Linked DNA regions of Homo sapiens. The protein of the gene in region 1 interacts with the protein of each later gene in a biochemical or structural test. Each region holds a gene or a part of one and is shown in the gene's direction. Other genes may lie near its edges.

Region 1 (7,608 bases):
TTAGTCCCATGAGGGAAGACAGGATATAGCAATCTAAATTATAAGGCACCCACTGGGGAGAGGATGTCTGGCCATTCCTTTCCTGCCACTGGGCTCTATGTGTGAGCGGGTTTCTATGAACAGATGACAAGAACCACAGGGATTCTTGGGACTGGCACCAAAAAGGGGTCAGGAAGGCAGGTCAGAGAAGGTCAAGTTTCTACAACCAATATAGTTATCTGAATAATTAGATCAAAACTGTCAGGTATCCAATAGCTTGCTGCGGACCTAAAATTCCAGGATGATTCTTTTAACTCTCTGCTTTGCAAATGAAAACTGTTTATATTTTCCCTTCACCATCACAAGTATAAACAGGAAAGCGCACAGCACCCTGCGATACTCTGGTGCACCTGTGAATGGATCTTTTCTGAGAAATTAAGTTAACTGATAATTATTATTTGGATCATATTTCCATTTATTTAGATCTTCTTTAAACAATTTTTTTTAGAATACAAGTGTGACACTTTTTTGATAAACTTATTCCTAAGAATTGCATTTTTTGATGCTATTATAAATGGCATTATTTTCTTAATTCCATTTTGTTTTATTCATTGTCACTATAAAACACAATTTGTTTTTGCATATTGATCTCATATCCTACAAGCTTGTTAAACTCATTTATTATATCTAATAGTTTTTTAGTCAATTATTCAGGATATTCTGTTTAAATATTTTAGAGTAATCTATTTAAAAGATCATGCAAGTGGAAATAGTTTGACTTTTTTTCCTTCCAATCTGAATGCCTTTTGTTTCTTTTCATTGTCTAAATGCCCTGACTAAAAGCAGCTCTAGTAGAATATTGAATGGAAGTGGCAAGAGTGTATCTCTTTGTCTTGTTCCTGTTCTTTCAGGGAAATGTATTTAGTCTTTTCCCTTTAAGTATGATGTTGGCTGTGTATTATCATGTTGAAGAAGTTTCCTTCCATTCCTGACCTGTAGAGTGTTTTTAAAATAAAAGGTTGTTGATTTTGTCAAATGCTTTTCTCAGTCTGTTGAAATGGTCATGTGGTTTTGCCTTAATTCTATTGACATGTATGTTATATGAAATAATTTTTAAATATTAAACCAACCTTGCCTTCCTGAGATAAATCCCACTTTGTATAAATAAGTTTGAATTGTTACATCTTCTTGATAGATTGACACTTTTCTTTTTCTTAAATGTCCCTCTTTATCTCTAGTAACATTTGTTATTTTAAAGCATATTTCGTCAGTGTAAAGCCACTCAAGTTCTCTTAGCATAGTGTTTGTGTAATATATCTTTTCTCATTTTTTTTTTTTTTACTTTCAACCTACTGGTATCTTTGAAACTAAAATGTGACTTCTGTAGACAGTATGTAGTCCATAATTTTTTTCTGCCTAAAAACTGGATATTTTAGATGATTTCTTGTAGCAATTCTTGATGCTGCTTTCTCCCCCTCCCCCAACTCCAGGGCTTGTTGTTGCTTAATTGTTTGCTGTTTGTTTAGTGACTTGGCTGGACTATATCAGCAAAGTCTATTTCCCTGTGCAGCTTTTTATACTGATCCTCAGCCAGTGAAGCCTGGGGCATGGTTATAATACCCCTAAGCCCTTTCTCCCTTCCCCCAGAATAACAATGGTTTTAGCAGGCTTCTCTGACTTTCTTTCACTGATATATTAAGCTTCTAGCTGGTCTGTTGTATCTATTGACATCACACTCAACTGTTAGCCTCCAGTAACTGCTGGCTGAAATGGCCTATTGTTTTCAACAATGCCTTGGGTTATAAATTACTCCACAGTCCGATCCAATTAAAGTCAGGCTCCTTTGCAGGGTAATCTTTGAGACCAGTCTCTGAGACATGTTATAGCCTCAGGAGAGCTCTTTTCAGCCATCTCTTTTTCTGGTTCTTCTGTTAAACTTCTAGTTGGTCTACTCTTTAACTTATTGCAATCATGGAGCTACTAGCTTTTCTTCCTTGCTCACAACCTAAATCTTCATTGTTTTTGACAGTGCCCTTAGGCTTGAACATCTCTATATTTTGTTCCAAATAAAGTTAGCATACTTAGAGTTAGTTATAGAGTTCTCTGTTCTATAGCCTGTCTCCTCTCCTTGGCAGAAACTCTGTTCCACTACTCTGGAGATGGGGATAGAGATAGTAACCTACTTCTCTTGGAGTGATACCCCTGGTGTGTGAGTGGGATGCTGGACTGGGGTAGTAGCCACTGGTCATCTTGGTTTATTTCCAGTGTTGTGAAAACTCAGTCTTATGAGTAAGTTGAGAGTTATCGGGGTCCAGTATTCCTAATTTGCTGTTTCTGGGGTAGATTCAGTTACATTTGCCTGCAATAGAGTCTGTTCAACATATTGCTAGGATTGGGGTAGGGCAGAGTTTGGTTACGTATGCTGACAACCTGACTTTTCTGGGTAGAAACTGTAGTCATAAACTGGGATCTGGGATTAGAGGCAGCCCCATCCTCGTGGCTACATTCATCCAGAATAGAGTTTTTCTCACATTGAGCTGAGGGGTGGGTAGAGAAAACAGGCCGTGCCTTCAGGTCTTACCAATATTTAGAAGATTTTTTTCAATTTCTGTCTGCTCTTAGGACAATTTCCAGAGACTGGATGGTTGTTTTTGATTTTTAATGATCTCACCAGTTATAGTTGTTTCACTAGGAAATCTATGGTGCTTCTTATGCTGTCATTCTAGAAGAGCTTCTCCTTTCTTCCCCCTTTCCCCTCACTTTTGCTGCCCTTAGTTTGCACTTCTCATGGAAGCTTTGTCTCACATACACTTTCTGGGGACCTTATACTAAGAAATCATTTTAGAAAGAATGTTCTGACATCTGTAAGAAAGTACTGCATGAGTGGAAGTGATGCCGATGGTTGATGAAGTGGGCTGCTACATCTTAACCTGGACCACAAGTTAGTAGACTGTTGCAGAGCTCAAGTTGTTCTCTTACCATCCTCCCAAGATTGGCATTTTTACTCTGAGAGGGACTGGACTATCAGCCATCAGGTGATCATAAGGCTAAACGGGTTGCCATATACTCACAAAATTTGGAATTTTAGAGCAGGAAAGGGTTACCAGGTATGGACAGCATCTTTATTTTATAGATGAGAAAACTATAAAGGCTCAAACTATAAGGCTCAAACAGGTAATTTTCCAAAGCCAATCAGATAACTAATGTCTGAGTACATAAGTCTTTTGATTCTTCATTTTGGTCTTTCCACAAGGCACTATGTGAGACTTGCTCCCTCATTTCTTTTTAGAAAGAAAAGTACAATAAAATGCAAATAAAAATAAAACACCTATTATAAAGCAGCTTTCTATTAAAGGATATTCATATATTCTTTGAGAAAAAATAATCGACTCAATATGTGTACCCTTCTTGTAGTCCACCTGATAGTCTCATTTCAGTGACTGAATCTAATCTATTCTGGAGTCAAACTGAAGGAAAAAGAAAAAATATTCATATGTGAACTTTTAATTCTATTGCCTCACTATGAATTTGCATCTAGGTGTTAGCCCTTCTCAACCATTCCTTTCTCAATTTCCCAGTGATGTTAGCTGAGTGTGTGTGTGTGTGTGTGTGTGTGTGTGTGTGTGTGTGTGTGTGTGTTGGCTGGGGGGAAATCCCCTGCACTCACTAATATGAACTAAGAAAAAACAAAACACAAAGCATCTTGCAGTTTGATGTAAAAGAGATGTTGGGGTAGTATATGGATGATGTATTATTCTCATTTTTTACTGAGTATCAGTAATCATTGCAAAAGTGTTGTATCTTATCCTAAAAGTATAAGAAATGTAATTTAAAATAAAAACTAACATTTAAGTGCCAACTACATGCCAAATTCTTTACTTGCTTTATCTCATTTAATGTTCCTAGCTACTCAATGAGGCAGATATTTTCCTCTCTGTTTCAGATAAGGAATTTCTGAAAGGTAATTAACTTCACCAAGGTCACCTGGCAACAAGTAGAAGAGCGAGAAGTAGGCTCATAAAAATTATCTCAAAATTCTTTCATCAACATTCTATGATGCTGCTTCTTTTTAACAACAACAAATGTTTTTTAAATGGAAAATCTGGATGTGCCATGGAGTTTTACAAATCCAGGTATTTAGGTGTATTTATGGAACTTGTTCTTTGGCTTCCTGTTTTTTAAAAATTATAGTGTAAAGTTCATAGAGATCTGGAACTTCATTCCTTCTATGAATGACTGCTCATGGAGTCTGGTAACATGCAAAAGTTTCAGTGTTTGCTACCATCCTTGTTGTTACCACCTCCTTCTTATCCTCCTTCTTCCTCATGTATAGAGACCATATAAGACAGTTTGCTGGACAATTCTGGTTTGTGCCTATAGCTTTGCATAATTATCATTATTATTCATTCCCCAAAGTGTCCTGGTTTAGATAATTTCATGGTCACCTTAACGTTCATAACTGAAAGTGTCAAGGGTGTTGTATTGCAGGTGCCCACTAGGTGTCAGCAGTGTGACCTCCAGAGAACCCTCAGAGAAAGGATTTCATTACAAAAGTCAAATCAAAGCAAATAATTAAGTGTAGTTCCAGAGCTACCTGAAGCCGTGGTCATTCAAAACAAATGAGAGGACAGGGGGAGGAGAGAAGGAACAAGCGCAGATCAGGTAGCTCCTTCTTGGGATCTGATAGACAGGGAAGGTTTCCTTTCCTCATTAGAAGGACTCCAGTGATCTGTGGAATGAGCACTACAGTATCCTTTTAAATTTTCACCCACAAGACAAAGCCAGTATGCAGTGAAATGAGGAAATGCCTTTAAGTGAAGAGATTTTTATTTCTTTCATAAATTGCTCAAGCCATGATTGGATGGAGGTCCTCCAGGTAGCTCCATGGACTTTAACAAGTCTATTGAATAACTGCATTTGAGTTGGAAGCTGAGTTGCCTGAACACAAACGATTTAAACCAGATTAGAAAGTGTCTACATACAGAGCTCAATAACACACTCGGAATCTTCTTGGGAGGACCCACAGACTGTACCTATATTACTTTTGACCCAGGTGGATGCAGTCACTCTCTAGAAGCCTCCCCGACTTCAGATGTGTGGCACACATCCACACAGGGGTGTAGGTAGGAGAAGCCCACAGGAATGGCTCTGCAGATGTTCGTGACTTACAGTCCTTGGAATTGTTTGCTACTGCTAGTGGCTCTTGAGTGTTCTGAAGCATCTTCTGATTTGAATGAATCTGCAAATTCCACTGCTCAGTATGCATCTAACGCTTGGTTTGCTGCTGCCAGCTCAGAGCCAGAGGAAGGGATATCTGTTTTTGAACTGGATTATGACTATGTGCAAATTCCTTATGAGGTCACTCTCTGGATACTTCTAGCATCCCTTGCAAAAATAGGTAAGTCCTTAAACACCTGGTTTGGTGAGTTATCTTTTTACATAAGATAGTGAATGTGAAAATGCCTTATAGATAACGGGCTAAGAGGATTTTAACTGTTACTGCTATTACATTAAAAATTCTCTTCCCTTCAGTCAAGGGAAAGTCATAACTGCATTTTACTAAGCTATTTAATACTTTGAGATTGCTCTTTGAAATTTGAGAGCATACTTCTGGGTACTGGGCTGTGTTGGTTTCTTCTCATTTCAGGGTGACAACCATGTGACATTGTTGACATGCAAAACTCTCAAATTCTATGCTTTAAAAATATAGAGAATAAAGCACGTAGACCTGGGCATGATGCAAGGTGGAAATTTCAGGAAACACATAATGTTTCTTCTGTAAAATATTCTTGGCTGTGTAATTGTGGGCTTCATCAATCACCCCATTGTTTATTCTTTAAAAGTAGCGTGTGCTTCTTGCAAATTGACAGAAAGCAAAAAACAAGAAAACCATAGGCAACTTGTATTACTCAGTGATGGGATGTCGGGGCATATAAGATTATATCTGTCAGTAAAATATTAGTTTATACCTACCAAGTGGGGCCAGTGAGGCACCTCTAATTTCCTTTGTGAAATAAAGTGAATCCAAGTTAATAGATTAAATTCCAATCAAGGGATCTTTGTGTCAAAAACCAAAGAGGTGGCTATACTCTGTGACTGTTTAATCCCTAACTGCTCCTCCTTATCTCTTTAAAACCAGCTTATTCTAAAGTGGAAAATTAATATAATTATCTCAAATGCTAAGCACAATGCCTCCTTTGCCTCAGCTATAAACTTTATGCTATTTGAGTATGTAGATTGCCTTATTGAGATAGAATCAATGAAACATTTTAATTCTCATTTATTTATATGTGTATGTTTTCTCTAGGATGGGTGTGTAATGTGGGTTGAGCCTTGAGGTCTGGCAGTTACCTTCTGTGTGCTCTGGCTATTCACTTAGCTCCCTCCCTGTGGGTGTGGGGACACTGGTATAGGTGTCCCCTTTAGACTCTCCTTTATAGTTGCTATTCATTTTGAGCTAGTAAAGTGTGAATATTAAATAGGAATGTTAGTTTGAAGAAGTCTTGTGCAATTTGCTTAGTGAATAAGTTACACAAAGGATCTTACTATATTTTTAAGAGGTATACAAGTAAAAATGGCTTTCCAAATGGATAACATTCTCAGTTCAGAACAGTCTAACATCTTTTGTGAAATCATATAGACACTGATTGTGTTCAAGGTGATCTTACTTGGTACTTGAGTTTTCCTTTTAAAACAATATGCTAGAGATTCTGTGTTCCCTGCTCCCCATTCCACAACCTGGCTTCCTCTTCACAGAAATGGCTCAAGTCAATCTGAGTACCAGGAAACTCGTCCTGTCACTGACTAGCTAGTTGCTCTGTTTATCAGTAAACATCTAAACGCAGAAAGGCTGCATTTTGTCTTGGTTTTATATTTGTGTAAAACCTAGCTTGTTTTGTAGAGGCATTGTATGCACCCAGATTCATTCTGTCTAGGAGCGAAGAACACTGTGAAAATACGATTATTCATAGAACTGTTGGTTTAAATGTTCTTGATTTTCATGATGTAATTTAACATACTTTAGAAAAAAAGAGTAGGATATCAGAACACGCTTATTCGAGTACAATTTCATATTTACTAGTCTTCAAGAATTTAGATTATTTTTATATTCCATATGGACATGAGGAGTGAGGAGATAAAAAGGCCATATTTATTGAATATATACTATGTGCCAATTACTGGGCTGGTAGTTTTATGTATAAGGGCTTGTTTACTAGGGCCAAAATAATAATGATGATGATGATTTATAATTTCAGCACTTAAGAAATGCATATGAGTTTTTAAAGATTATGTTATAAAACATGAATCAGAATAAAATTAATAATCATTATTATGATTCATTCTTTTATTCCTCATTCCATCAAGGTACATTTTCTGAGAACCCATGAAATATGTGGAAATGACCATGGTCCCTGACCTCAAGGGACTTGGTCTAACGGGGAAGATAGGTTAACTTAGTACTTATTGCCCATAGATACTCTGACAGAAAAACATCAAAACTCTCCCCCAATCCTTTTTAAAACACCCAACTATATGCACTTATAAAACAAAGATAATGTATAACAAAGATAATACAAAGCCACCTCAGACTTTGTGGTTTATCTTCTACTTCAGTTCCACATCTTAGAA
Region 2 (7,663 bases), on another chromosome or scaffold:
TGAGGTGGGAGGATCATCTTAGCCCAGGAAGTTGAGGCTGTGGTGAGCCATGATCACTCCACTGCACTGCATCCTGGGTGATAGGAGACCCTGTCTTAAGAAAAAAAAGAAAAAATAAGAAACCCTGTACACTTTAGCTATTATCCCTGACTCCCACCTACCTCCCTTAGCCCTCGGCAATCACTAACCTACTTTTTGTCTCTACGGGTTTGCCTATTCTTAACATTTCATGTAAGTGCAATCATATAATACGTGGTCTTTTGTGACTGGTTTATTTTACTTAGCATAGAGTTTTCAAGGTTCATCCATTTTGTGGCATATATAATACTTCATTACTTTTTATGGCCAAATGATATTCCGTTGTATCAATATACCATGTTTTACTTATCCATTCATCAGTCAAACATTTGGCTTATTTCCAATTTTTGGCTGTTATGAATAGTGTCGCTATGAATATTCACTACAGGTTTTTGTTTGAGCTCCTATTTTCTTTCTTTCTTTCTTTCTTTCTTTCTTTCTTTCTTTCTTTCTTTCTTTCTTTCTTTCTTTCTTTCTTTTTTTTTTTTGAGCCGGAGTCTCGTTCTGTTGCCCAGGTTGGAGTGCAGTGGTGCAATCTCGGCTCACTGCAACCTCTGCCTCCCAGGTTCAAGTGGTTCTCCTGCTTCAACCTCCCAAGTAGCTGGGATTACAGATGCGTGCCACCATGCTTGGCTAATTTTTTTGTATTTTTAGTAGAGATGGGGTTTCATTATGTTGGCCAGGCTGGTCTTGAACTCCTGACCTCAAGTGATCTGCCCACCTCTACCTCCCAGAGGGCTGGGATTACAGGTGTGAGCCACTGTGCCTGGCCTGAGCCCCTATTTTCAATTCTTTTGGGTGTATACCTAGGAGCAGAATTGCTGGGTCACATGGTAATTTTGTTTAGTGTATTGAGAAACTTTCAAACTGTTTTCCACAGTAACTGAACCATTTTACTTTTCCATCAGCAATGAATGAGGCTTCCAACTTTTTCATAGCCTCACTAAGACTTGTTTTTGTTTGTTTTAATTCCAGCCATCTTAGTGGGTATGAAGTGATATCTCATTGTGGTTGGTTTGTATTTCCCTGATGACGAATGATGTGGGGAATCTTTTCATGTACTTATTGGCTAAACATATATGTTTTTTTGGAGAAATGTCTATTCAAGTCCTTTGCCCGTTTAAAAAGTTGGGTCATTTATCTTTTTATTATTGAGTGCTAATTGTTCTGTATTTTCCTGACTATTCCTGGATGTTCATTCTTCTAGTTGAACCTTCACCAAGAATGACTAGCGGCCAGGCGTGGTGGCTCATGCCTGTAATCCCATCACTTTGGGAGGCCGAAGTGGGCAGATCACTTGAGGTCAGGAGTTCGAGACCAGCCTGGCCAACATGGTGAAACCCCATCTCTACTAAAAATACAAAAATTAGCCAGGTGTGGTGGTGCATGCCTGTAATCCCAGCTACTAGGGAGGCTGAGGCAGGAGAATTGCTTAAGCCCAGGAGGCAGAGGTTGCAGTGATCTGAGATGGCGCCACTGCACTCCAGCCTGGGCAACAGAGTAAGACTCTGTCTCAAAAAATTAAATAAGAAAAAAAAAAAAAGAATGACTAGCAACTTTTACATAGCTGAAAAGCAAAAACCAAATATTCCTCCTGACTCTAGTCTAACAGATTCTGCAGATAAAATTTTCCCCAAAGCATCTTCCCGCTTAAATGACCTGAAAAAACTGTGAAGTTGATTTAAGTCTCACTTGTGTACATGAAACAGAAATGAGTTCTAGCATAGCCTGCTCTCTCTCTCTTTCTTTTTTTTTCTTTTTGAGATGGAGTCTTGCTCTGTTACCCAGGCTGGAGTGCAGTGGTGTGATCTTGGCTCACTGCCACACCTGCCTCCCAGGTTCAAGTGATTCTCCTGCCTCAGCCTCCCAAATAGTTGGGATTACAGGCGCCTGCCACCACACCCAGCTAATTTTTTGTATTTTTAGTAGAGACGGGGTTTCACTGTGTTAGCCAGGATAGTCTCAATCTCCTGACCTCATGGTCTGCCCGCCTCAGTCTCCCAAAGGGCTGGCATTATAGGTGTGAGCCACTGTGCCTGGTCCAGCCCTCTCTTAAAAGCTTGTGTATGATGTGTGCATGGGAGTTCCTAATTACTCTCCGGCCTAATTTACTTTGGTGTAGCACTGACTCCAATATTAAGGCTGGAGAAGCCCTTTCCAAGATCAGCATCCCAAGCTGGCCTGCGGTGCTTATCACAGCTTCTTAGGGCTCTCATCTCCTCCTGGGTTCAGAACTGAACCCAAACTACATGCACAGCCTGACTCACAGCTGTGGGTTGCAGTGATTGCTGGGCTTCATTAGGGAGGAGTGTGGTTTCCCGCATGCTTAGTCTTTGGGGGGAGTCTGAAAGAGAATCAAGCATTCCTTATGCCAGTTGCTTAATCCTTGGGGGTATCTGAAAGAAGCAAGCACTTCTTAGATCAATATTTTCAAGACTTATCTGATGCAGGCCTCTGCCTGGGGCTGGAGGATAGACTGTTTCTTCAGCTTCTCTCTCTCCAGGGTGGATATGAACTTGAGCCCTTGCAATGAACTGCTTGCATGTTTTCCCCCCTGGGAAATTTGTGTATGTATGTGCAATTATGATGGGGGAAACGGTTTAAAGATACTTTCAAAAGTGGACACTTCTAGTGTTTGTCCCTTGACAAATGAGTTTCTCGACCTGTTTTTTTTTCATTATCAACGCCTCCCCTAGTCTTTTTAATTTCCCCACCCTCACCCCTACCCCATGAAATTTTATTTTCTTTCTTTTTTTTTTTTTGAGACCAAGTTTCGATCTTTTTGCCCAAGATGGTGTGCAATGGCGCGATCTAGGCTCACCTCAATCTCCACCTCCCGGGTTCAAGCGATTCTCCTGCCTCAGCCTCCCGAGTAGCTGGAATTACAGGCATGCACCACCACGCCCAGCTAATTTTGTATTTTTAGTAGAGACTGGGTTTCTCCATGTTGGTCAGTCTGGTCTCAAACTCCTGACCTCAGGTGATCCGCCCGTCTCGACCTCCCAAAGTGCTGGGATTACAGGCATAAGCCACCGCGCCCGGCCTCTTTTCTTTTCAAGACAGGGTCTCACTCTGTCACCCAGGCTGGAGTGTAATGGCGTGATCATGGCTCCCTGCAGCCTCAACCTCCTGGGCTCAAGTGATCCTCCTGTCTCAGACTCCCAAGTAGCTGAGACTACAGGCATGTGCCACGACACCTGGTTAATTTTTTTTTTTTGTATTCTTTTGTAGAGATGGGGTCTCACTATGTTGCCTAGGCTGGTCTTGAGCTCCTGGGCTCAAGCAATCCTCCTGCCTCTACCTCCCAAAGTGCTGGGATTACAGGCATGAGCCTCCACGTCTGCCCTGAAATTTCAATATCACAGCTATACTGTATATCTATTTATGTGCTGTATGTATGCTGTGCTTTGTACATAAAAAATATGTTTTATTTTTTGCCCCGTTGGGGTGAGATAGAGACCGCACTGAGAATGCACGCTTTACATAATTAGTTCACAACTTGCCCCCGGCAGCCTCCACCACGTAAAATTAGAAGAAAGCAGCCCAGCAGGGCCTACAAGGAATGTGTGAACGGATGCACGTAAAGTGCTTAGCAAAGCGTGGTAAACAAGAGCCCTTGTTGTCATTCTTGCTTTAAGCCTAGTCCCAGTGATGTCTGTAACCCTCTCTTGGGCCAAGGAGTCCCATGGCTCTGGAGGGCTGTTCAGAGGACTAAGTCATTCCCAGTCTGGAGCTCTACGGGATCAGTAGGTACCTAAGGGAGTGAATTGGGCTTGGAGGGACTGTGGCCAGAAGACAGCTCTGGGCCTGGTGGTGATAGAACTTCTGATTTCTCAGGAAAAGCCAAGAATGTGGATTTTGGGTTAAATCTCCTGAATTTTAAGCATTGGCTCAATTAAACAACAATAAGGCAATGTGAACCGAACAAAAGGGATGAAACCAAGATTTACTGACTTTCCCAGAGTCACGGGCACGGCTGGGATTCCAACAAGGACTCCCAAACCAGTGCTCTTTCCACTTAACCTAACGCACACCCTTCATCTCGCCGCCCCTCCCCACTTCCCCGTCTTTGGGAGTTCTTCGATGCCTCTTCCCCCCTCCCCCCAGGATTCCCTCCCCATAGGCCACCCGCCTTCCAGCAGGGCGTGGTCTCTACAGAGGAGGTCAGGTCTCCCAGGCTTCCTCAGCGTCGACGCCGGGGAGCGCCCTGGGGTTGGGAGCGCCCGGGGCCCGCGAAGGAGGAGGTGGCTCAGGTGTCAGGGCGCACCGTGGGAACCGGCCCCGGGGGAGGCGTGGAAACGCGGGGCCTGGGACTCGACCAGCCTCTCCCGTGCGGATCGCAAAATCTCGGAGCTGAAACAGCCCGTTGTTCGCAGCCTCCCTCTGACCCGCCACCCTGCACATTGTTTTCCATTCGCCCGGGTCGCGGGTGGGAGGAGAGGCACGCCGGGGTTCTGGAGCTTGGCCGCGCGCCAGGCTTGTGGCCTTCGTCCCCCTGGGGCCACTGGGGCGGCCACGCCTCTCCGGCGGGAGGAGAGAACGCGTGGGTCCGGGTGGCTGCTCCGGCCCTTCCGCCTCCAGCTCGGCCATGGGGTCGCGCAGCTCCCACGCCGCGGTCATTCCCGACGGGGACAGTATTCGGCGAGAGACCGGCTGTGAGTGCGCCCGCGTCGGCGGCTGCGGAGGGGACGGGGCGAACCCAGGCGTCTGGGGCTAGGGAAGGGGTTGGGTTGAAGGATGGACGAACTTACAAGTCTGGGGTCCGGGGCTCCCCGGAGCTGGAAGACCAAGGCCCCTGTGCCTGGGATCGCTGGGTTAGGGGCGGGTTAACCTAGGGGTCCCAGCCTCCAAGTCTGGGGAGGATCCGGGTTCACGGGGTCGGAGTCCAGAGGAATCCAGGCACCCAGGTGTCCTCCAGCCCGGCTCGAAGCTGAAGGCAGAGCTGACGGCGGTTGGAAGGGATGGCTTTGGTTCTTTGGTTTTCGGGAGGTTGCGAGCCGCCCGGGTCTTGAACCTGGATCTTCGCGGGGTCGTGTCACTCTCCCTCCGCCCCGGCCAGCTCAACCCCTGATTCCCCGGGATGATCGCCCCTTCCAGCCAGCCCCCGCTGTTCTGGCCCATCTTCCTGGCCTGTTGGGGCGGGTTTCTGGAGCTGGCCCTGCAGAGTCACACACCCCCACCCCACTCTCCTTCCCGCAGTCTCCCAAGCCAGCCTGCTCCGCCTGCACCACCGGTTCCGGGCACTGGACAGGAATAAGAAGGGCTACCTGAGGTGAGGGGGAGCCGGCCTCATAACTTCTGGCCTCTGTCTCTCTGACTCCATGTCCCTCTTTGACCCTCCGTCTGGCATCTCTGCCTTACCCTCTTTGAAATTTGGCTTTGCAGCCGCATGGATCTCCAGCAGATAGGGGCGCTCGCCGTGAACCCCCTGGGAGACCGAATTATAGAAAGCTTCTTCCCCGATGGGTGAGGCTTGCTGGGCGTGGGGAGGTGAAGGCGGGAAAACCGGTGTGTGAGTGGGTGGGAGGGGAGGTTAGAGACGGAGGCAAAGTGATGGCCAAGGTGACCACCACCTCTTTCCATTCTGTCCCGTCTCCCCAGGAGCCAGCGAGTGGATTTCCCAGGCTTTGTCAGGGTCTTGGCTCATTTTCGCCCTGTAGAAGATGAGGACACAGAAACCCAAGACCCCAAGAAACCTGAACCTCTCAACAGCAGAAGGAACAAACTTCACTGTGAGTTTGTGAGGACCTGCACAAGTGAGAATGCAGATGTACCCACACCAGGGACAGGCTCCAGGGATCTCCCACTCCCTTCCTGAGGGCATTGACAACCTCCCCCCTCCTCCAAGGTGGGGGGAAGGAAGGTGGCTGCTGGAAGAGAGCCAGGGAAGACCTACCTTCCTTTCCCCCTCCCACCCTCTCCCCAGATGCATTTCAGCTCTATGACCTGGATCGCGATGGGAAGATCTCCAGGCATGAGATGCTGCAGGTTGGCAGAAAGCGAGAGCAAGAGATGTGATGTGTGAAGGATGGGATGGTTAAATGCAATGGTGTGAGAGATGGGGTGGGATGATTGGGGAACTGGGGCGCAGATAATTGGGGTATTGGTTGGGAAATGGGAATGGGTGCAGTTAGAGTGTGGGTTTGTTGGGAGTCGGAGTGGGGAGCAGTTGACTATGAGGTTGGGAATAGATCAGTGATTCTCAACTGGGGGTGATTTTGCTCCCTGAGTGAATATCTGGCAATATCTGGAGATGCTTTTTGTTGTCACAATGGGGGAGAGAGTGTGCTACTGGCATCTAGTGGGTAGAGGTCAGGAATGTGGCTATATATCATGCAATACCCAGGAGAGCCTCTTCCAACAAGGAGTTACCTGGCTCCAAATGTCAACAGTGCCAAGATTGAGAAACTCTGGAACAGATGTGATGGAATGAGGATGGAATTAGAAACCCTTAGTGGCTAAGGTGGAGAATGGTGTGGAGGATGGATGGAGGTTGGGTGATAAAGTTGGGTAATGAGTTTGAGCATATTTTGAGGGTAGTGCAGGATGGTGAGGGAGAGATAGGAGATTGGTTGTTGAAGCAGTAGGGAAAATTATTGGGGGATATGGTGAAAAATGGATGAAGGATGGATTATAAAATTAGCAATAACTTTTGGGATGAGGTGGGCAAGGTTTAGGAGATGGGGAGTTGCAGCCTTCGTGCCCCCTCCTTATGGCTGCCTCTTCACTCATCTCTCAGGTTCTCCGTCTGATGGTTGGGGTACAGGTGACAGAAGAGCAGCTGGAGAACATCGCTGACCGCACGGTGCAGGAGGCTGATGAAGATGGGGATGGGGCTGTGTCCTTCGTGGAGTTCACCAAGGTCAGAGTGCCCTTGGGGATTGGGGAGTTGAGATCAGGAGTTCTGGGGCAGACAGACTTGGGAAACGTTCAACGGAGGAGGGCGGAAAGATAGGGGTTGCCTGGGAATGATGGGGTCTCTGGAATGGGTAGAACCCTGGGGGAGGAGGTTGGGAGCATGGAGAGCTGAGAGTCAAGCCTCTTGCCTGCCATTTGTTTTTCCCTCAGTCCTTAGAGAAGATGGACGTTGAGCAAAAAATGAGCATCCGGATCCTGAAGTGACTCCGTTTGTGCCTTGGGCTTGCTCCTGCAACCAGTATCTCCTTGGAATTCATCCAAAGCCCCCATGGACGCATGGACGCAGGGCGACAATAAACTGTATTTTCGTTTCTAACTCTATTTAGGGCCAAGAGAAGAAAGCTGGAAGGATGTGTACTAAAGTCTAGCTCAGCAGTCCCCAACCTTTTTGGCATCAGGGACAGTTTTTCCACGGATGGGTGACAGGGGATGGTTTTGGGATGATTCAAGTGCATTACATTTATTGTGCACTTTATTTCTATTATGATTACATTGTAATATATAATGAAATAATTATACAACTCACCATAATGTAGAATCAGCAGGAGCCCTGAGCTTGTTTTCCTGCAATTAGACGGTCCCATATGGGAGTGATGGGAGACAGTGACAGATCATCAGGCATTAGATTCTCATAAGGAGTGCACAATCTAGATCCTTTGGTGTGCAG
Region 3 (7,098 bases), on another chromosome or scaffold:
TACATTGGGAAAAGAACTTTTCTTTCAACTTGTGTTTAATGAATTGAATTTTAGAGACAGTTTCCCATAACTTGGGTCTATGCTATCCTATTAATTTTTATGTCTAGGTACTTGAAATGTTCCATTTCTGTGTATTTTTTTATTTTCTGTCCTATGACAGTTCTACGCTAAAGGTATTTTAAAATAAAAGCCAAATTGGCCGGGCGCAGTGGCTCATGCCTGTAATCCCACCACTTTGGGAGGCCGAGGTGGGCAGATAATCTGAGGTCGGGAGTTCCAGACCAGCCTGACCAACATGGAGAAACCCTGTCTTTACTAAAAATACAAAATTAGCCGGGTGTGGTGGCGTATGCCTGTAATCCCAGCTATTCAGGAAGGCTGAGGCAGGAGAATCACTTGAACCCGGGAGGCAGAGGTTGCAGTGAGCCGAGATTTAGAGATCGCGCCACTGTACTCCAGCCTGTGCGACAGAGCAACACTGTCTCAAAAAAAAAAAAAAAAAGAATTACAACCATATAGAAATGTACAAAGTAAAGAAAAAATGTACTAAGAAATATTATTCATAGTGGGTACTCACCACTGGGTGCAGTGGCTTATGCCAGTAATCCTAGCACTTTAGGAGGCCAAGACAGGCAGATCACCTGAGGTCAGGAGTTCGAGACCAGCCTGACCAACATGGTGAAACCCCGTCTCTACTAAAAACACAAAAATTAGCCAGCTGTAGTGACGCACACCTGTAATCCTAGCTACTCAGGAGGCTGAGGCAGGAGAATCACTTGAACCCAGGAGGTGGAGGTTGCAGTGAGCCAAGATCGCGCCATTGCACTCCAGCCTGGGAGACAAGAGTGAAACTCTGTCTCAAAAAACAAAACAAAACAAAAGAAGGCGGTACTCTTACATTCTTTACCATAATACAGTAATTTTTTAAAAGTTAATTTAGAACTATTCTGTTATTTAGATGTCCTTGTATTTAGAAACTTAGATAAGTATTCTTCTATAGTTTTTTAAATTTAAAAGCTGTATACTTTTGCCACACTAGGAAAATTCAACCAGTGAATTTTGCAATTTAACCATAAAAACATTGATGAAATAACTAGAGCCTAAGTCAACTAGGAAGAAGGTGAGATGTTACATACAATTTTCGGTCAAATAAATAACCTATATTTTTACATTTTAAGGTCTATCAAGTGCTTATACAAATATTACTTGATATAACAACCATAACCTAATTTACAAATGAAGAAACTGAAGTTTAGAAGGTTAAGACACCTGCCCAAAGTCACACAGCTAGAAGGTAATGCAATCTGAACTAAGACCAGGCCTCTAGGGTAGGATGTTTGTAGTTTAGTGCAAGACCAAGTCTTATGCATCCAAACAGAACATAAAACAAGTCATCAGAGAGTCTAAGAAAAACCATTCTTTAAGTTAATCCAACAGGCAAAAGGAGAATTTTTAAAGAAAAATACATAAAACTGGAAAAAGAAAACAGCCCTTAATAGAGGCAAACATTATTTTTATTTTATTTTTGAGATGGAGTCTCACTCTGTCGCCAGGCTGGAGTGCAGTACCGCTATCTTGGCTCACTGCAACCTCTGCCTCCCGGGTTCAAGCAATTTATACTTTTAAAAGGTACCCAAGAAAGGAAAGTTTGTGAAACACCTGGAAAATAAGAGAATTAGAGAAACATTAAAGAAAAAAAAATTAAAGTCAGAAAAAAATACTAACATGAAGCAAAGAAAGCTTTGACTGGAGACAGCTGCAAACACTAAGATTCAAGATTAGGAAGGAAAAAAGTAAGGTCAGCATCAAGAGATGGGCTTCAAGGCTGACTGAGAAAAGGGACATTCATGGGGCTGACAAAATTTTCCTATCACAGCCATATTCCAACATACAAAGCAGCTCCAGTGATTTAGCTCTTAGACGGGCATATCCAAAATGTTACTGAGTACAAAGGACAACATCACTAGGTTAGACAAGTGCACGACAATCATAAAAATAACTCTAAGGCCGGGCACGGGGACTCACGCCTGTAATCCCAACACTTTGGGAGGCCGAGGCGGGTGGATCACCTGAGTTCTGGAGTTTGAGACCCGCCTAGACAATATGGTGAAACCCTGTCTCTACTAAAAATACAAAAATTAGCTGGGCGTGGTGGCACGCGCCTGTAATCCCAGCTACTCAGGAGGCTGAGGCATGATAATCCCTTGAACCCGCCTGGAGGTTGCAGTGAGCCGAAAATGCACAGTGATCAGGCCATTGCACTCCAGCCCGGACTCTGTCGCAAAAAAACAAAACAAGCCAGGTGCGGTGGCTCACGCCTGTAATCACAGCACTTTGGGAGGCTGAAGCGGGCAGATCACCTGAGATACGGAGTTCGAGACCAGCCTGACCAACATGGAGAAGCCCTGTCTCTACTAAAAATACAAAATTAGCTGGACACGGTGGCGCATGCCTGTAACCCCAGCTACTAGGGAGTCTGAGGCAGGAGAATCGCTTGAACCCGGGAGGCGGAAGTTTCGGTGAGCTGAGATGGCGCCTTTGCACTTCAGCCTGGGCAGAAGAGCAAAAACTCCGTCTCAAACAACAACAACAACAACAAACAAACAAAACTCTAGTTCTTCAAACTAGAACCTCAGCTTGCAGGGAACGTGTGGGGCCTCAGGCTAAGCTGTAAAGCCTTAGGTAACACTTAAAACTAGTAACTTAAGTTGACCTGGGAAAGCCTGCTACGACAAAAATATCCTGGTACTTGGGTACTAACAGCAGTCAGAATTCGGTTCTTCCTTATCTTATACGTGTTCTAACCAAACAGGTGTGAAGGGGTAAGGCAGGTGAAGCAGTAAGAACTGGTTCACCTGAGAGTAGGCACTAATTTAACGGGTGGCTTTTACCTTTTTTTTTTTTTTTTTTTGAGACGGAGTCTTGCTCTGTCACCCAGGCTGGAGAGCAATGCCGCGATCTCGGCTCACTGCAACCTCCGCCTCCCGGGTTCAAGCGATTCTCCTGCCTCAGCCTCCCGAGTAGCTGGGATTACAGGCACGCGGCACCACACCCGGATAATTTTGTATTTTTATTAGAGATGGGGTTTCTCCATATTGGTCAGGCTGGTCTCGAACTCACGACCTCAGGTGTTCTGCCCACCTCGGCCTCCCAAAGTGCTGGGATTACAGGCGTGAGCCACCGTGCCAGGCCTACCTTTTTAATCAAAACAAACAATACACCATGAGAATAAAATGCAAAATTTCTCATTTTTAAGACAAAATAAGGAACTTCAAATAAATGGCGGACCATAAGCTAGGAATTCACTGTCCTCCATCGTTAGGGCTTTTTCCTCCGAAGGAAGTTTGGGAAATCTGGATCCTAATTTCAGCCAAGTGGTGCGTTCCTCGAACTTCAGTCTAGAACTAAAAGAAGAGGGGCTGCAATGAAGGAAGAAGTCTCGGGACGCTCCACGCCACCCGGCGGCGGTTATCAAATCACAGGCTGAAAACCTGGAGAAAGGTCCGCGACGCCGGGGACACACGCCGCAGAGGCGACGCCCGCCCGGCCCAACGTCCAGTCTCGTCTGTTTCCCGAGGAGCCAATCAGCACGCGGCCCCGAGGCCGGCTCCCCAGCGCCCCCTGCGGCCGGGAGGAGGACGGCAGCCAGGAAAGATGAAGAGCGCGTGCAGTCCCCGAAGGGTACACCCTAGGGTTCCCCCCCACGCGAAGTTTCTCTCCGCAATCCGTGCCACCTATCGAGTAGGATTCCTAGTGTTCGATTCCTGTGAGAAAAGGTAGACTACGCTGCCTGTCGCAGGTTAGTTTGTTGTAAAACTGTTGGTCAATGACGTTGCCCTTTTAATTGCGTCGTTAGCGACCGAGTGGCATCGCCCCTTTAAGGCCGGTGGCAGCTGCGGTTCCGGGGGCGGGGTCCGTCTTCAGCAGGACTTGGGCTGGAGCTGGGCTGATTCATTCGGGGCTGGAACTCGAACGCTGACGTTGGCTCCTGAGCCGGGCGCTGCCTCGCGCCTGATTGGCGGGTCCTCGGGGCCGCCCTCCCCAGCGCACCACCCCTGGGTTCCCTCCCGGGTCCGCAGTGGAAACACTGCCCTCTCCCTTCTTGACCCCTAGCCCTTCCTTCCCTCCCTCCTTCCCTCCTGTCGCCGTCTCTTCTGGCGCCGCTGCTCCCGGAGGAGCTCCCGGCACGGCGATGGGTTCTCGGGCCTCCACGTTACTGCGGGACGAAGAGCTCGAGGAGATCAAGAAGGAGACCGGCTGTGAGTTCGGGTTGGGGGTGGGAACGCCGGGCGCCTCAGGCTGGCCTCACAACCAAGGGCGGCTGTCGCTAAGGTCTGGAGCTCGGGTGCCTGTGAGGTTGGGGGGTCCTGGGCAGCCTCCAGGTTTGGGGACCGAGAGCTGGAAGACCTGTTCTTCCAGCTGCAGCTTCCTGGAGCGGGGCTCTAGCTACTGTGGGGCTGTCCTTCCCTTCAAAATCGGGACTCTTGATCACTCGTAGAGCGTCGACGCCCCCCTTTTCTGCACCCTGCCCATCAAAGTCCCCGAACTCCTTTCCTTTCTGTTGCCTCGCACCACCCTTCCCTATGAAGAGGCATCCTGAACAGTAGGTAAAGCCCGAGAAGCAAATTCAGGAACTCGAGATGGATTCTGTAGAAAATCCGTTTCTGGGTAAGGACCTAAAACCTCTGACAACTATGGGAAATTACAAACAAGTTCTTGTCACAAATTGGGAAAACCACCCAGAAAGCAAGACCGTGTAGTAAGGCTTTGGGAGACATGACCCGATGCCTGGAGACCTTTAAACAATCAGGGGTCTGGGATTGTGAGACTTCTTTCAATCTGAACTTCTAGAGAAAAAACACGGATACTGTGACCACCAGTTTTTTACTTACACGACGATACTTGCTGTCCTAATCTCATATATGTATTGATTTCTACTATGCTGGTGTACTTTTTTATTCGCTATTGAAATTGGATGTGCTCCAAAAATCTCCGTGTGAATTTGTACTAGGAACTGATTTTTTTTTTTTTTTTTTTTGAAACGGAGTCTCCCTCTGTCAACCAGGCTGGAGTGCAGTGGCGTGATCTCGGCACACTGCAACTTCCGCCTCCCAGGTTCAAGCAGTTCTCCTGCCTCAGCCTCCCAGGTAGCTGGGAGTACAGGTGCCTGCCACCACGCTTGGCTAATTTTTGTATTTTTGGTAGAGATGGGGTTTCACTATGTTGGCCCGGCTGGCCTCGAACTCCTGACCTCAAGTGATCCACCCACCTCGGCCTCCCAAAGTGCTGGGATTACAGGTGTGAGCCACCGTGCCCTGCAGAACTGATTTTTTTTTTTATAGTCCAGTCTCTTCCTCATTAGTCTGAACAAAGGAGCAAAAGGACTCGGGATTCTGAAGCGCTGTAAAATACCATCATAACTTTGAATAGTCCTTGATAATGCAATGTATGATACAATTGTATTGATGCATACAATATTTTATCTTTTCAGTAAACCTTTATGATTCTTATTGAGTTAATGAAGGATGTAGCACCTGAGCTCTGTCTCTTCATCATACTTGTCTTTGATAATGACATGACCAGTAACTCACTCCGGCCCATATGCAGATAGTACTGAGGAGTGCTATGGGGAACTACAGAATTTTTCAGGCCTGTTTAAGTGCTGTTCTCTGCTTTGTGACAAGTTCAACTTTCTGGAGTTTTCAAGTTGGAAGGGATGTTTTCTAGCCCCACCCCTTTCTGGACTGGTTTGCTTCTTTCAGCCTCCCCTAAAATATGGCCCTTAAGCCTCTCTGTAAAGACATTTAATGATGGTAACCTCTCCACCTACCAAGGCAGTCCTTTTCACGATTTGAATGACCCAAAGTAGTTAGCTCTTTATAATTTGCAGTACTTGTTTGGCCACTGACTTACTCTGACCCTCGGAGTGGAGACGCAAGCAGTTTGGATTCAACAAGCATTTTATTACGTTTTGTGGCCATAACTTCTGGCCACATTTGTAATTAGTACTACTTTAGGTCTAGGGTGACACCGAATTAAAGTATTTGTGTTAAAGAGTCACATGGAGAAATAAGCAGAATCAAAGAGAAATAAATATAGAGTCACATAATGAGAAAGTGTAAACCATAGTGAAGATGCAAAAAGCCATTTTTGCTTCAGAATGAAGGGAGCAGTAATCCCATTCTGGTTTATATACATTTGACCAAATGGAAATGACCTGGATGGGATATTTTTACCATGTGGCTTGTGGACAAACAACTAAGTGCTCATGGAAAAGCTGTTTTCCCCATTGCCAAAGAGTGAGTCACTTGTGAGGGAGATTCTCTCCACAACCAGTGCAAATGTATGTATTGAGCCAGAATGCTTAGTGAAACAAGTGCTTACTGAATTTTTACAGTGTCTGTTCAGTACTGTGCTAGGTACTCAGAGCAGATGGTGACAAAAAACGCCCCCAACCTGGTTGGGGAGATAAGCCCAAGAGAGTTATGATTAGCATCATGACATAAGAAAGCTGAGAATTGTGTGTCATCCACCTTCAGAAATCAGGCAAGAGAGAGAGTCCTTGTGGGCTGTCCTCATGGAGGACAGGAATTGGGCCTTGATACATGGGTGGAGTAGATTTGGATAGATTAACCTAGGGCATTTTGGGTGACTTCCAGGAGAGATCTCCCCCTAAGCCTGCTACAAAGTCATTCCTTTGCCCTGGGAACCATCAGTTTATCCAAATAGTGTCCATCATCAGAGTTGTTTTTTCTTTTTCTTTTTCTTTATTTTAGAGACAGGGTCTTTGCTCTGTCTCCCAGGCCGGACTGCAGTGGCTTGAGCATAGCTCACTGCAAGCCTTAAACTCCTGGGCTTAAGCCATCCTCCCGCTTCAGCGTCCCAAGTAGCTAGGACTACAGGCGCATACCACCATGCTTACCTGATTTTTATTTTTATCTTTTGTAGAGATGGAGTCTTGTTATTTTGTCGAGGCTGGTCATAAACTCCTGGCCTCAAGTGATTCTTAGGCCACTTCAACCTCCCAAAGCACGGGGATTACAGGTGTGAGCCACTGCGCCAAGCCCAGAGTTGTTTTTTCAAGGAGTAATTTGGTAT

The links.
Region 2: the proteins of SLC9A4 (region 1) and CHP2 form a complex in vitro, tested with the Homo sapiens proteins (one study listed by BioGRID).
Region 3: the proteins of SLC9A4 (region 1) and CHP1 form a complex in vitro, tested with the Homo sapiens proteins (one study listed by BioGRID).

What each region holds. Positions count from the first base shown.
Region 1 is NC_000002.12:102,468,639-102,476,246, forward strand, and holds the start of SLC9A4 (sodium/hydrogen exchanger 4 precursor), read left to right. Parts: upstream 1-4,587; 5' UTR 4,588-5,121; coding exon 5,122-5,377; intron 5,378-7,608. UniProt on the Homo sapiens protein: Electroneutral antiporter that exchanges sodium for protons or ammonium ions at the basolateral membrane of epithelia to regulate cell volume and intracellular pH upon hypertonic conditions.
Region 2 is NC_000016.10:23,750,384-23,758,046, forward strand, and holds the start of CHP2 (calcineurin B homologous protein 2), read left to right. Parts: upstream 1-4,642; 5' UTR 4,643-4,666; coding exon 4,667-4,733; intron 4,734-5,277; coding exon 5,278-5,350; intron 5,351-5,463; coding exon 5,464-5,544; intron 5,545-5,679; coding exon 5,680-5,810; intron 5,811-6,004; coding exon 6,005-6,066; intron 6,067-6,817; coding exon 6,818-6,940; intron 6,941-7,146; coding exon 7,147-7,200; 3' UTR 7,201-7,663. UniProt on the Homo sapiens protein: Functions as an integral cofactor in cell pH regulation by controlling plasma membrane-type Na(+)/H(+) exchange activity.
Region 3 is NC_000015.10:41,227,191-41,234,288, forward strand, and holds the start of CHP1 (calcineurin B homologous protein 1), read left to right. Parts: upstream 1-4,077; 5' UTR 4,078-4,192; coding exon 4,193-4,259; intron 4,260-7,098. UniProt on the Homo sapiens protein: Calcium-binding protein involved in different processes such as regulation of vesicular trafficking, plasma membrane Na(+)/H(+) exchanger and gene transcription. Involved in the constitutive exocytic membrane traffic.